Homo sapiens: one gene and its partners. The protein of the gene in region 1 purifies or fractionates together with the protein of each later gene. This does not show direct contact. Each region holds a gene or a part of one and is shown in the gene's direction. Other genes may lie near its edges.

The links. The genes of interacting proteins can lie anywhere in the genome.
Region 2: the proteins of SGF29 (region 1) and ZZZ3 purify together in Homo sapiens (affinity purification with mass spectrometry; 9 studies listed by BioGRID and IntAct, with this or other methods). This does not show direct contact.
Region 3: the proteins of SGF29 (region 1) and EDC4 purify together in Homo sapiens (affinity purification with mass spectrometry; 6 studies listed by BioGRID and IntAct, with this or other methods). This does not show direct contact.
Region 4: the proteins of SGF29 (region 1) and SUPT7L purify together in Homo sapiens (affinity purification with mass spectrometry; 6 studies listed by BioGRID and IntAct, with this or other methods). This does not show direct contact.

What each region holds. Positions count from the first base shown.
Region 1 is NC_000016.10:28,584,920-28,588,419, forward strand, and holds part of SGF29 (SAGA-associated factor 29), read left to right. Parts: coding exon 1-69; intron 70-728; coding exon 729-801; intron 802-3,500. UniProt on the Homo sapiens protein: Chromatin reader component of some histone acetyltransferase (HAT) SAGA-type complexes like the TFTC-HAT, ATAC or STAGA complexes.
Region 2 is NC_000001.11:77,578,159-77,581,658, reverse strand, and holds part of ZZZ3 (ZZ-type zinc finger-containing protein 3), read left to right. Parts: intron 1-589; coding exon 590-661; intron 662-2,030; coding exon 2,031-2,132; intron 2,133-2,789; coding exon 2,790-2,885; intron 2,886-3,500.
Region 3 is NC_000016.10:67,876,052-67,879,551, forward strand, and holds part of EDC4 (enhancer of mRNA-decapping protein 4), read left to right. Parts: coding exon 1-50; intron 51-436; coding exon 437-548; intron 549-821; coding exon 822-921; intron 922-1,165; coding exon 1,166-1,355; intron 1,356-1,457; coding exon 1,458-1,605; intron 1,606-1,689; coding exon 1,690-1,794; intron 1,795-2,114; coding exon 2,115-2,224; intron 2,225-2,308; coding exon 2,309-2,392; intron 2,393-2,484; coding exon 2,485-2,580; intron 2,581-2,685; coding exon 2,686-2,788; intron 2,789-2,905; coding exon 2,906-3,086; intron 3,087-3,185; coding exon 3,186-3,258; intron 3,259-3,360; coding exon 3,361-3,452; intron 3,453-3,500. UniProt on the Homo sapiens protein: In the process of mRNA degradation, seems to play a role in mRNA decapping. Component of a complex containing DCP2 and DCP1A which functions in decapping of ARE-containing mRNAs. Promotes complex formation between DCP1A and DCP2.
Region 4 is NC_000002.12:27,653,615-27,657,114, reverse strand, and holds part of SUPT7L (STAGA complex 65 subunit gamma), read left to right. Parts: intron 1-1,512; coding exon 1,513-1,750; intron 1,751-3,367; coding exon 3,368-3,500.

The sequences.
Region 1 (3,500 bases):
GTTCGCGGAGCGAACACAACTTAGTGAACATCCAGAAGACCCATGAGCGGATGCAGACAGAGAACAAGAGTGAGTAGCTGGGCTCAGGAGAGAAAGGGGATGAGATGGGGCTAGGGTGAGTATGGCCAAGACTGTGACCGAGGTGGTCATTGTATTCAAAATAGATTTGCATGTATCTGCATATTCCAAAATGCAGCAGGAGGGACAGCTTTCCGTTAATCTGGGTGACCTGAAGAACTAAAATCCCTCTACTCTGAGGATTCGAAAGGCAGTGAAATGAGGCTGTATCTAGGGAAGCTTGCCCTTAGAGCACACAAGCGCCCCAGTTAGCTGGTGTTTTCTAGAAAGGAGCTTCCTTCCCAGGCGGCCCCTGCATCTGCCCTGAGGCCCTCAGGTGGTGAGATCCTGGGGCTGGGGCTTTCTTACTCTGGGTAACTCTGAGAATTGTGTTTTCCTGGGTCCTGACAAATATTTTCTGTGAGTGTCATGATGGAGAAAAGGTAAGACAGTACTCTCGCAGATGTAGGGATGGCATTTGTACCATATGGAAATGCGGACTCATGGAGCCTGGGGGCATCCGCCTCAGGAGCACTCCTGAGCCAGCAGAGCTCTGACTGCAGCTACGGCCTCTCTGTGCCTCCACGAGTGTGATTCCGGTGCATGGAAGCAGTGCCATGCTACTGTGCCTGCCCTGGCCCTGCCTCCTTATCCCTGTGTTTCCTCTGCAGTTTCTCCCTATTACCGGACAAAGCTGCGTGGCCTCTACACAACCGCCAAGGCCGATGCAGAGGCTGAGTGCAAGTGAGTACCGTGCACCCACTTCATCGCCGCTCCCTCCTTTCCTGGGGGCTGGGCTGCAGGTCCATTTGGACCAAGTCCCCAGCCTGCCTTCCTCCCATGGATAAGCTGATTGCTACTCCCAGCCTCTCGCTTGGGTCCCGCATTCCCTGGCCCACTGCCAGGCCCACTCTTCCAGTTACCTCTGCTGCTAATGCCTTTACAGAAGGTGGCAAGGCGTGAGTCAACACTGCCGTTTACTGGCTCTATGACCTTGGCAGAGTCATTAAAATAGGGATATCAGGGGCTGGGTAGCTCAGATCTGTAATCACAACATTACAGAGGTGATTGGGAGGCCGAGGTTAGAGGATCACTTGAACGCAGGTGTTTGAGACCAGCCTGGGCAACAAAGTGAGACTTTGTCTCTACAAAAAGTTTTTAATTAGCTGAGCGTGGTGGCATGTGTCTGTAAGCTTGGCTGGGAAGTCATACTCAGATGACCTGAAGGTTTTATGGTTCTGAGATGGAGAAGTTTCACTTCCAGAAAACTCCTGCTTTTAAAATAATCTTAAGGCCGGGCAGGCACAGTGGCTCATGCCTGCAATCGCAAGGTGGGTGGATCACCTGAGGTTGGGGGTTTGAGACCAGCCTGGCTAGCATAGCGAAACCCTATATCTACTAAAAATACAAAAATTAGCCAGGTGTGGTGGCGCACGCTACTTGGGAGGCTGAGGCAGGAGGCGGAGGTTGCAGTGAGCTAAGATCGTGCCACTGCACTCCAGCCTGGGCAACAGAGCAAGGCTCTGCCTCAAAAAAAAAAAAAAAACTAAAATAAAAAAATGATCTGGAAACACTGTTTCCTTGAATCTCTGCAGGAGATTCAGGAACTTGAACATTACATTCCTCTACTTTGAGAACACACTGGTTCTGAAGTCTGACTGTGCCCAGAGGCTCTGTTTATTTGGGGTGGAGCTCCAACATTGGTATTAACTATCTGACATTTCCTCACTAGTAGGATTCATGCTTTACACTTTTGGCACAGAAGAGGTGTCTCTGGTGGGTCATATTAGACGGCACAGGATGCTGTCTGTGCCATTGGTTAAAGTGGTATTTTCCACGTTTCTCTTGTATCAGATTACTGCTATTTTCCATTGTGTGATTGATCGATTAAGACAGGGTCTCAGTCTGTCATCCAGGCTGGAGTGGAGTGGCGTAATCATGGCTCACTTCAGCCTCAAACTCCTGGCCTCAAGTGATCCTCCTGCCTCAGCCTCCTGAGTAGCTGGGACAATAGGCACCTGCCACCACTCCACCTAATTTTTGTATTTTTTGTAGAGAGGGGTTTTGCCATGTTGCCCAGGCTGGTCTTGAACTCCTCAGCTCAAGCGATCCACCCACCTTGGCCTCCCAAAGTGCTGGGATTACAGGTGTGAGCCTCTGCACCTGGCCTCCATTGCATAATTAATAAGTGTCTTGGGAGATACTTTTGAGACTGTAACTATCCTGTTCATATCAAACACACTAGTTTTAGCATCCATTTATGATTTGTGCGTGAAACAATTGAGATTTTTTAAACTTCCCCCAGGAGATTCTGATGCCCACCAAGGTTTGAAAGCCACTTCAGTAACATGTCACAGAAGACAGTTTAGGACAGGCTGTATAAAACTGTATCCTCCACACAGGCCTGGCAACAGTGATGAGACTCTCAGAGTTCCCTTTGGCCCCGTGGCTCTTTCTCCTTCTCTGCTTTCTGGGGTCCCGGTGCTCACAGCCTGAGGTGGCACTGGCTGGGCCATCCCTGCATTGTACGCAGCAGGCAAGCTGTTCCTTGTCCCTGCGTTGGTTTGGCTGCCCTTGGCCTACCTCCATCTTCTGGCCCTGGCCTGGTGAGGTCCATGAGTCACATGCCCTGGGGCACCCCCGGACACCTCCCGAGATGCTGCATCACACCCAGTTCCTGTGCATCTCCTTCCTGCCGCACAAAGGTCTTTAGAACTCCGGGTCATTTCAGAAAGGCTTGCCAGAGGAATGGACTGGGGTTTGCCATGGTATCAGAGGAAAATAAAATGACCCAAAGTGGAGTTTGTGCTGCTGACTACTGTGGAAATACGTATTTTTTTTGAAATGGAGTTTCGCTCTGTCACCCAGGCTGGAGTGCAGTGACACAATCTCGGCTCACTGCAAGCTCTGCCCCCAAGGTTCAAGCGATTCTCTTGCCTCAGCCTCCCAAGTAGCTGGGATTATAGACGCCCGCCACCACGCCGGGCTAATTTTTGTATTTTTAGTAGAGAAGGAGTTTCTCTATGTTGGCCAGGCTGGTGTCGATCTCCTGACCTCAAGTGATCCTCCTGCCTCAGCCTCCTAAAGTGCTGAGATTACAGGCGTGAGCCACCACACCCATCCCTGCTGTGGAAATACTCTTTGGGAAGATTCCCTGAGCTTTAGGATGAAGGAGCCTCACTCCAGCCAAGTTCTGTGTTTGCTTCTGCTGGGTTCTTTGGGTTCCTGCCACCCTGGAATCCCCATAAACTAACTTCACAGAGGCTTCCTGGGGCTTCAAGGCCATGCAGGGGTCTGTCTTTGGGTTCAGCCTTTCAGAAAGGATGAGGTCCTTCCACCCAGTTCTGCTCTGGGCCAGCACCTCTCCCCAGAGTCTCCCCTCCTTTTGTGTGACCCTCGGGCAGACCTGAGGCCCCCTCTCCTCATTTCAGGAGGTTCCTGCA
Region 2 (3,500 bases), on another chromosome or scaffold:
AAGAACTTTGAAATTAAGAGAAACTTAGGTTGGAGTCCTAACTTACTAGCCGTGAACCTTCAGACATCATTTACGTTGAAGTCTCTAAGCTGCAGTTTCCTTTTGTATAAAATGTAGTTGATATTACCTATCTTGTAGGGTTGTTGGTGAGGGTTAAATAGGTAGTATATGCAATGTGCCTAGTACAGTATCCGACACATAGTATTTACTCTAAAAATAGTAGTTCCTTTGTGTGTAGTGAAATGTGACCAGGATTTGAGTCCTGGCCTTGCCACTCTTAGTTAGATGAACCTCAGTGGACATGTTACTTTTCAATTCTGAGCCCACATTTCCTTTCCCTTTTTTAAAAAATGAAGTTACAGTACTATTATGTATTTCACAGGATTGCTGAGAGTATAAAACCAAACAAAATAAAATAATGTGAAGGCATTTTGTAAACAGTTAAAAAAAAAGCATATACATTAAAAAACAAATTTACTCAAATATTTTGAAATTAATTTAAAAATTCCACAATTTGCGTGTTATTTGGCTATATCAAAGGATAGGTGTTGTTATTTTCTCTCTGACAAAAGCCTTGTCTTATGTGCAGATGATAAGAGGACGCTTGTGTGATGATACCAAACCTGAAACATTTAACCAGTTGTGGACTGTTGAAGAACAGGTAATAAATATTTCAAAATCGTGTAGGCTTAAAAAAACAAGTAAACAGTTAACATCAGAGTCAGTATTATGAGGCCAGGTCCAGTGGCTCACGCCTGTAATCCCAGCACTTTGGGAGGCTGATATGGGTGGATCACTTGAAGTCAGGAGTTCAAGACCAACCTGGCCAACATGGTGAAACCCTACTAAAAATACAAAAATTAGCCGGGTGTGATGGCGTGTGCATATATAATCCCAGCTACTCGGGAGGCTGAGGCAGGAGAATTGCTTGAACCCAGGAGGCAGAGGTTGCATTGAGCCAGGATCATGCCACTGCACTCCAGGCTGGGCAACAGAGTGAGACTCCATCTCAAAAAGAAAAGAGCCTGTATTTTGAGTCAGGTGTATATTGTTGTATGTGATGCCTGTTAGCCATGAGTTTTAAATATTTAGGCTTATTTTTGTATACCTTTTTGCATACGTCAAGAATTTTGGATTTTGAGAATGTGTAAACTTTTGTTTGGGGATAATTTTAAAAGAAGGAACCTGGGTTTTGAGAGGGGAGTAGAAGTGGATAGAATAAAATAGATGTTTTTGTAATGTAGCTTTGGGAGAGAGAAAAACCTGAGGCCAGTAAAGCTGAGCTTCAAAGTGCATTCTTATTTTTGTTGTCGAAGGGAGGTGAGGAAGTCAAGTCAGTTTTGGCATACAGTTTAGAATTGTTTTTTGGCTAATGGCTAGGGTTGTTAGTGGGTGAAGTTTGAGGCACATCTTTGTCTCATATGGCTATTAACCCCACAGCTATACATTTAACAGTTTATAAAAAGCTTTGGGAAATCTATTTATTTCAAGCATCCAGATTTTTCTGCATCTTTAGGACTATGAGAAGATACAGGAGACAAGAAGGAATATTAAAATCAAATATTTGAATAAAGGACCATACAAAAGAAGGAAAAGCCTCTTTTAATAGTCGAAATTTAAGTGAATTTACACGTTTTTGTTAAAACTGTAGGGGAAAGAAAAGTAAGAAAAGATTGACCATCTTTTCTTGGATTTCAGTGGATTTAGTGATTTCAGTGGAAATCACTAAAATGTGTAATCTACCAATTTGTTTACTTATTTTCTGTTTTCTTATGAGATATTTTTACTTATGTGAATAGAAAACTTTTCTAAGCTCTTTCATAAGTTTATTCTCTAATTTCATTGTTCCCTGTGAAGTCTTAAGTTTCTAACTAGAAATTTTTCCTACCATGAGGATTTCTAATTACGTAACCCCCAAAGGTGGGAGAGAGTATTACATTTTGAAATGAAATGTGAATGTATTTATTTAGAAATCCAATATTTAAAATTAAATACATATTTTCTTAAATTTGGTCTTGGGTATGGCTTAGAAAAAGCTGGAACAGCTACTCATCAAATACCCTCCTGAAGAAGTAGAATCTCGACGCTGGCAGAAGATAGCAGATGAATTGGGCAACAGGACAGCAAAACAGGTAATTGAGGAGATGACTGCAGATTGCTGGTATGCTTTTGGTAGTTTTTTAATAAAGGAGAATAATGCAGCTGACATTGGGCGATCTGCCATAACACTTTCAGCTACAGAGTGCTGTAGTATGTGGTGTTTTTTTAAAAAAATTGTATATATTTTCGTTGATTTCAGAAACAACTTGAGATACTTCTGCTTTGGATCATTACGAAATATTAAAAAATGAACATATAATGGACTTAATTTCTCTTGAATGCTTACTAAATATACTAATTGTATACTTTTTGGTTATACTGAGCAAACAGATTTGTTTCATTGCCTTAGTGTTTCCTGGTTGTCTTTCTAAAAATGTATCTTGCAGTTTACTCCTTCATATTCCCATCTATATTAATAGATGTGTTTTTATACTACAAATGTAAGTGTTCACAAGTTGAAATATGTGTTTAGCTTTAGAATCAAATTTAAATTTACTTGAATAATTTTTGTTTGGCCTAGATTTTAAAATATATGTGTATTTGGTGGCAGTTTATTGTTAATTCTAGATTCATGATGAGTATTGAATTCTTAGCATTCATTAGATACTCATGTACGTTTTAATTTTTAAAAACGACTCAGGTATTGTATGTCATCTCATTGTGTTAAGAGACTTGTCATGTTTCCTTAGGTTGCCAGCCGAGTACAGAAGTATTTCATAAAGCTAACTAAAGCTGGCATTCCAGTACCAGGCAGAACACCAAACTTATATATATACTCCAAAAAGGTAAAAGAAAATACATGAAAGTAAACTGTAGATTAAATTTATTAAAGTAAGAATTGCTATGTAAAAATCTACACATTTGACAGAATAGTGTTGTATTTTAAAACTTCTGTTCATTCTAAGCATTTCCTTATATTGTGCAAAAGTGGAGGGTAAGGACTCCATTATTGCTGCTCAGTGAAATTCATGATTCTTCATTATTTTCTTTGGAGTAATGTGAATGAGTGCTACTTGAAAGATTTTAGATTCAAAATATGTTAGAAAGGCCTTTGTGAGGGTAAAGTTTTTAGGATATTTGATTATTTAATAAATCAATCATTTAATAAATTTAATAGATCAATTTCTGTTTTGTAGATAATGCTACATAAATCCAAGAATAGAAAGGTTTATTATGATATTCTAAAGCCAGGCACAGTGGTGTGCACCTGTTGTCCCAGCTACTTGGGAGGCTGAGGCACGAGGAACACTTGAGGCCAGGAGTTTGAGTCCAACTTAGGCAACATAGTGAGGTCCCGTATCTTTAAAAAAATAAAATATTGTATTTAATCCTTTCTACAATTCTTGAAATATAAGTAGTCTTATCATCTTCACTTTACTGACATAATATTAATAGCTAGC
Region 3 (3,500 bases), about 39 Mb from region 1:
ACTGGTCTTCGGACCATGCCACCCATTAACCTGCAAGAGAAGCAGGTCATGTGAGTACCTAGGAGACGACAATAGTGGTGATGGTGTATTTGGGGTGTCTGCTAGCTGAAGGCATGAGATGGGGAGTGAGCGGGGCCAGCAGCCTCTGCTGCTTCCTCTCTAGATGACCTGGGGTGGAGCTTGAGCTTGCACTAGGATGAGAGGCAAGGACAAGCTCAGGGGTTTGGCCTGGATACCTGGTTTAGAATGAAAGTAGGCTCATTCCCAAGGAAGGAGATGAGCAAGCAGAGCTGTGGGTCTGGGGCCAGTGGACCAGGCGAAGCTGACATTGGACTAGATACCTTCCCCAGTCTGGCTATGTCCTCGCTTCCTCCCAACCCTGCCCGCTGAGCCTTTGGGTGAACAAGAGGCAAAGTTTTTGCACTCTTCCCCACAGCTGTCTCTCAGGAGATGATAGCTCCACCTGCATTGGGATTTTGGCCAAGGAGGTGGAGATTGTGGCTAGCAGTGACTCTAGCATTTCAAGCAAGGCCCGGGGAAGCAACAAGGTAGGTACTGGGATGCTGTGGCATATATAATGTACGGGGGCACACCCAGCCTTTCCAGTCTCCCTCATGCTGCCAGTTCCTATGGGGACCACCTTGACACTTTCCCAGTTTCAGGAAGCCAGGGCTGGGTGCCAAGCCTCTGTGGGAGTCTGGCTCCAGGAGGTAACAGTGGGTAGCTGGACTTGCATCTGTGTCCTCTCCCATCCCCAGGGATGTTGGGGGCCACCTAGGCTCTGGGGAAGTTCCATGACTTTTCTCACCCTGGGTTCTCAGGTGAAAATTCAGCCTGTCGCCAAGTATGACTGGGAACAGAAGTACTACTATGGCAACCTGATTGCTGTGTCTAACTCCTTCTTGGCCTATGCCATTCGGGGTGAGTAAAGACAGTGAGGAGGAAGGAATGTTCTGCTGGATGTCCCACAGAGCCAGTTCCAACATCAGGCCACTCAGGCCTTAGGGGTACAATGGAAGGTTTGTCCATGCTGCCTCTTGGGGAGCTGGGTGGGAAAACCAAGCTTGAGACTCTGGTGGTGGCAGGGAGACAGGTGGGGCAGCGCTTCTCTGCTACTGCCTGAGCCTGGATACGTATTCATGGTCCACTGCTCTCCTGATTCCAGCTGCCAACAATGGCTCTGCCATGGTGCGGGTGATCAGCGTCAGCACTTCGGAGCGGACCTTGCTCAAGGGCTTCACAGGCAGTGTGGCTGATCTGGCTTTCGCGCACCTCAACTCTCCACAGCTGGCCTGCCTGGATGAGGCAGGCAACCTGTTCGTGTGGCGCTTGGCTCTGGTTAATGGCAAAATTCAGTATCCATTCCTTCCTGTGGGTGGTGGGACTGAAGAAGGGTGGGCGGAGCTGGGGTGTCACGCCTCTTCATTCATCTATCTAGCCCTTAACACCCTGCTCAGAGAAGAGATCTTGGTCCATATTCGGCAGCCAGAGGGCACGCCACTGAACCACTTTCGCAGGATCATCTGGTGCCCCTTCATCCCTGAGGAGAGCGAAGACTGCTGTGAGGAGAGCAGCCCAACAGTGGCCCTGCTGCATGAAGACCGGGTGAGGGGGCTGACATGGCGAAGAGGCGCCAGAGAAGCCATAGTGTGGGGTTGGGCTGCACACTCACCTCCCTGTGCCTTCCAGGCTGAGGTGTGGGACCTGGACATGCTCCGCTCCAGCCACAGTACCTGGCCTGTGGATGTTAGCCAGATCAAGCAGGGCTTCATTGTGGTAAAAGGTCATAGCACGGTAAGCCTGTGACTGCCTGCCTCCCCTGCCCTCCCCACTTCCTCATATCCATCTTCTGTTCCCTATATCCACAGCTGCCCGGGCAGCTTTACTAGCATTCTGCCCGTGGGGACTCTGAGCTCAAATTGGCCCTCACCTGTGCAGCTTTCTCCTTATCTAGCAGCACCCTGCAGGTCTGGCCTTCTCTAGGAACCCTGTTCATTTAGTCAGTCACACAAGCATGCCAGTCCCACCGTGAGTCAGCCCAGCTCATTGCCATCCTCACTTGGGAGGGGCTTGTTCTCACCTCTAGTCAGCAAAGCTTTTTGGGTTCTTTCTAGTGCCTCAGTGAAGGAGCCCTCTCTCCTGATGGGACTGTGCTGGCTACTGCGAGCCACGATGGCTATGTCAAGTTCTGGCAGATCTACATTGAGGGGCAAGATGAGCCAAGGTAAGGCAGGGCCTCAGGGACCAGGATCCTCCCGAGGTAGCCCACCCGACCACTCACTCAGGCCCCTCATCTGCCTACCTGCAGGTGTCTGCACGAGTGGAAACCTCATGATGGGCGGCCCCTCTCCTGCCTCCTGTTCTGTGACAACCATAAGAAACAAGACCCTGAGTGAGTGAGTGGGCAGCCTAGTGGGTGGTGGGCTGGACCATGGCTCCCAGCAGGGGCCCCAGCCAGTCACTCACTGCCTTGTTGCCTTGCAGTGTCCCTTTCTGGAGGTTCCTTATTACTGGTGCTGACCAGAACCGAGAGTTAAAGATGTGGTGTACAGTATCCTGGACCTGCCTGCAGACTATTCGGTAAGCAGTGGCTGGAAGGCTGGGGGACTGGGCAGGGGCGGCAGGGTTGGGAATGTAGCTTCCTTCAGTTCTCAGGCTCATTCACTCTGCTTTGTGGCTCTCTAGCTTCTCCCCAGATATCTTCAGCTCAGTGAGTGTGCCCCCTAGCCTCAAGGTTTGCTTGGACCTCTCAGCAGAATACCTGATTCTCAGCGATGTGCAACGGAAGGTAGGCTGCCATGGGGTACCCTGGGCAGAGTTGGGATTATAGAGGAAGGCCGGGGGGCAGGTGGCGCATCACAGCCCTTAGCCTCTGAGCTCAGCTAGGAACGTTCTGCCTGTGCAGGTCCTCTATGTGATGGAGCTGCTGCAAAACCAGGAGGAGGGCCACGCCTGCTTCAGCTCCATCTCGGAGTTCCTGCTCACCCACCCTGTGCTGAGCTTTGGTATCCAGGTTGTGAGTCGCTGCCGGCTACGGCACACTGAGGTGCTGCCTGCCGAAGAGGAAAATGACAGCCTGGGTGCTGGTGAGCTGCCTCAGGGTCAGAGCTATGTGTCCATATATCTAGGGGGTTGTGGAGGCACAGAGAGGGCCAGGGGCTTCATCATCCACACTGTCCTTTCAGATGGTACCCATGGAGCCGGTGCCATGGAGTCTGCGGCCGGTGTGCTCATCAAGCTCTTTTGTGTGCATACTAAGTGAGTGAGTGGGGAGGCCCGCCAGTGTCCTGTCTGTGTCTGTCTCCACTCTACTGACCCTTGCCCTTGGAGCACTTTATTCTCCCCCTTCTTTTCCTGCAGGGCACTGCAAGATGTGCAGATCCGCTTCCAGCCACAGCTGAACCCTGATGTGGTGGCCCCACTGCCCACCCACACTGCCCACGAGGACTTCAGTGAGTAGGGCGTGAGAGGGAGGTAGGGTAAGTTGGACTGACCAGGGT
Region 4 (3,500 bases), on another chromosome or scaffold:
AGTATATGGAATCTGAGAGAATGCAGTTAGTCTGATTTTATTCAACAAGTATTTATTGAGTGCCTGTTGAGAGTCGAGCATTGTGGGATTCAGCAGTTACTAAGTTACCTGAGTTTACATTGTTTTTGAAGGGAGACAAACACAAGTCAATAAATAACAATCAAAACAATTTCAGGAGCTGGGCATGATGGCACATGCCTGTAATCCCAGCTACTTGGGAAGCTGAGGTGGGAGGATTGCTTGAGGCCAGGAGTTCAAGACCAGCCTGGACAATATAGTGAGACCCCATCTCTACAGAAAATTAAAAAATAAAAATTAGCTGGACATGGTAGCTCATGCCTGTGGTCTCAGCTACTTGGGAGTGTGAGGTGGGAAGGTCACTTGAGACCAGGAAGTTAAGGCTGCTGTGAGCCATGATTGTGCCATTGCACTCCAACCTGGGTGACAGAGCAAGACCCTGTCTGAAAAAAAAAAAAAGAGAACACAGACCTACTGACAATCCTCCTGCCTCAGCCTCTCAAGCAGCTAATATAATGGTTTGACTGGAATTGTAATATATATATCTAATATAGCTGCTTGGGAGGCTGAGGTGGGAGGATTGTTTGAGGCCAGAAGTTTAAGACCAGCCTGGGCAACATAGCAAGACCCTGTCTCTAAGCACATACACAAAAAAATACAATTTTGGATAATGTTAAGTGCTATGAAAAAAACAGAGTAAAATGATATTGCCTGGAGGATGGGTTGGTGGGGGGTGATGATTTTGCTTGGAACCAGAAATATCTAATCTCTTCAGCCCTTGTGCTCTTAAGTCATTTGTTCACTGTTTCAGTTTCTGCAGGTCTAAAATATGATTAGGAATTTTTAACACCCAAGAAAAAAGTCTTTGCTAAGTGATCCAGATTTCCCACACCATTGATTATTCACCTAGGATACATATGTCAACTTTTTTTTCCCTTTTTTTAGACAGGGTTGCCTGGGCTGGAGTGCAGTGGCACAATCACAGCTCACTACAAGCGATCCTTCCACCTCAGCCTTCCAAGTAGCTGAGACCACAGATGTGAACCACCATGCCCAGCTTTTTTTTTTTTTTGGTAGAGATGGGGTCTCACTAGATACTGCCCAAGCTGGTCTCAGACTCCGAGGCTCAAGTTGTCCTCCCACCTTGGCCTCCCAAAGTACTGGGATGACAGGTGTGAATGACCGTGCCCAGCCTACTGTTAATTTTTATAGCCAAAAAAATGTAATCTTTTGTCCCAGTTCTAACACATTTTTTTACCTTTATGTAACTTTTAATTAATGACATACACATTCTCTGCCAAACCAATTTTCTTTACATATCTCTATCACTCATAAATGCAAACTCAGCACCTTAAACAAATCCCTCCCATTGGCAGTGAATGTTTTAAAATTCTGTTATTCATGTTCTGTTGGCTTTTCCATGGGACGTCACAAGCTGACTATCCAACTTGCTTTTAACATTTCCTTGGAAAATTGACTCTTGCTTGCCAACAGATTAGTAAGCAACTCTCTGAAGAATATGAAAGGATTGTCAATCCTGAGAAGGCCACAGAGGACGCTAAACCTGTGAAGATCAAGGAGGAACCTGTGAGCGACATCACTTTTCCTGTCAGTGAGGAGCTGGAGGCTGACCTTGCTTCTGGAGACCAGTCACTGCCTATGGGAGTGCTTGGGGCTCAGAGCGAACGCTTCCCATCTAACCTGGAGGTTGAAGCTTCACCACAGGCTTCAAGTAAGACAAATAAACTTACTCACTTTGATTCTGGGAGATCTGCCAATTTCAGTACTTTTTGCTTTTTGGAATCAAGCTCAAGAGGTAGAAGAACAAAAGCAGCAGTGGGCAGAATGGAAAGTCCTAAAACGAATACAGTTTCACCTATCTAGAGATCCCAGCATTCTTCTCTTTCTAATTAGTGAAGAGAGGATTAGCACAGCTTTACAGGCATTCTTTAAAATAATCCCTAGTTAAGATGTAGATGCAATGTGTTGTCACGTTGATTACCAAGGCTGATTCAGCTGATCCAGCTGGTTGGGAAGATATCCCCTTCCTCCTTTAGTATTTTATTTTTAGTATTCTGTATTGGTCCTTCCTGATGCTTGTACTTCATTGAATAAGACAGCTGCCAGATAGATGGGGGAGTGTTAATTGCTCAAGGATGTTCTCAGAGTTTGGCTTCCCTGCTAGAGTATTCTAACAAACTGAAGATGAAAGACATTGAAATAGGGCTTCCGGCTGGGCGCAGTGGCTCACGCCTGTAATCTCAGCACTTTGGGAGGCTGAGGCGGGCGAATCACGAGGTCAGGAGATCGAGAACATCCTGGCTAACACAGTGAAATCCTGTCTCTACTAAAAATACAAAAAATATGCTGGGCGTGGTGGTGGGCACCCGTAGTCCCAGCTACTCAGGAGGCTGAGGCAGGAGAATGGCATGAACCCAGGAGGCGGAGCTTGCAGTGAGCCGAGATTGCACCACTGCACTCCAGCCTGGGCAACAGAGCAAGACTCCGTCTCAAAAAAAAAGAAATAGGGCTTCCCAGTTAGAGGTAGCTGGCTTCTTTTTCCAGACTCTGTGATTACCTTAGGAGCCAGGACAACTGACTGGTTACGTGTCAGTTAGGTTGCAAATTAGTCTGGACACTCAGTTGTTTACAAGTATAAATTGTCATCAATGCACAAATGACTCAAATAGCAAATCCTCAAATGTGGTCTAAATGGAATTAGGTCATACTTTTAAAAGTGTTGGGCAGAGAGCCTTTCACTATGGAAGAATAACCATAAGAGAACAGCATTGCTAGAATACATAGAGAGATGCGAGGGCCAAAGAGAAATTGTTGCGGACTTCGGGACCATGTCTCTTCAAAGAAGACCAGGTAGAGAACTGCTGTTAGCATTATGTAGTGACCATTAACTTTTCATAATGCAAGAGATGACCAGAGACCCAAACAAAAGGCAGGAAAACAAGATGGCCCCATAAAAGAAGGAAGGAAGGACAGGCAAACTAAACAACTGAACAAGTCCTGTGGTTGTGCATGTCTTTGGGCTGTGAGACAGGGGATCTTTCCACCTGCCTAGTTTCACTTCCCTGGTTTAGGGGAAATGGGGGTGGGTGAGGTAGAGGAAAGAAAGGTAGAAGAAATGGAAAAGAAGATAATCAGAGCTGGTAATTTTTTGGGATGGTTAACTTTTTGAAGCAGAGAGTAACAACCATATTCTCCAGCCAAGTACAGAATCAGAGTGAAAACTGAGCTCAAAGCATATTAGTTGGTTCTGAGTGATATATTTACTCTTTGTTCTACACTTGGCTACACATATACACTTGGTGTATGTCCATCTTTCCTCTGTTTCTAGGTGCAGAGGTAAATGCTTCTCCTCTTTGGAATCTGGCCCATGTGAAAATGGAGCCTCAAGAAAGTGAAGAAGGCAATGTCTCTGGGCATGGTGTGCTGGGCAGTGATGTCTTCGAGGAGCCTATGTCAGGCAT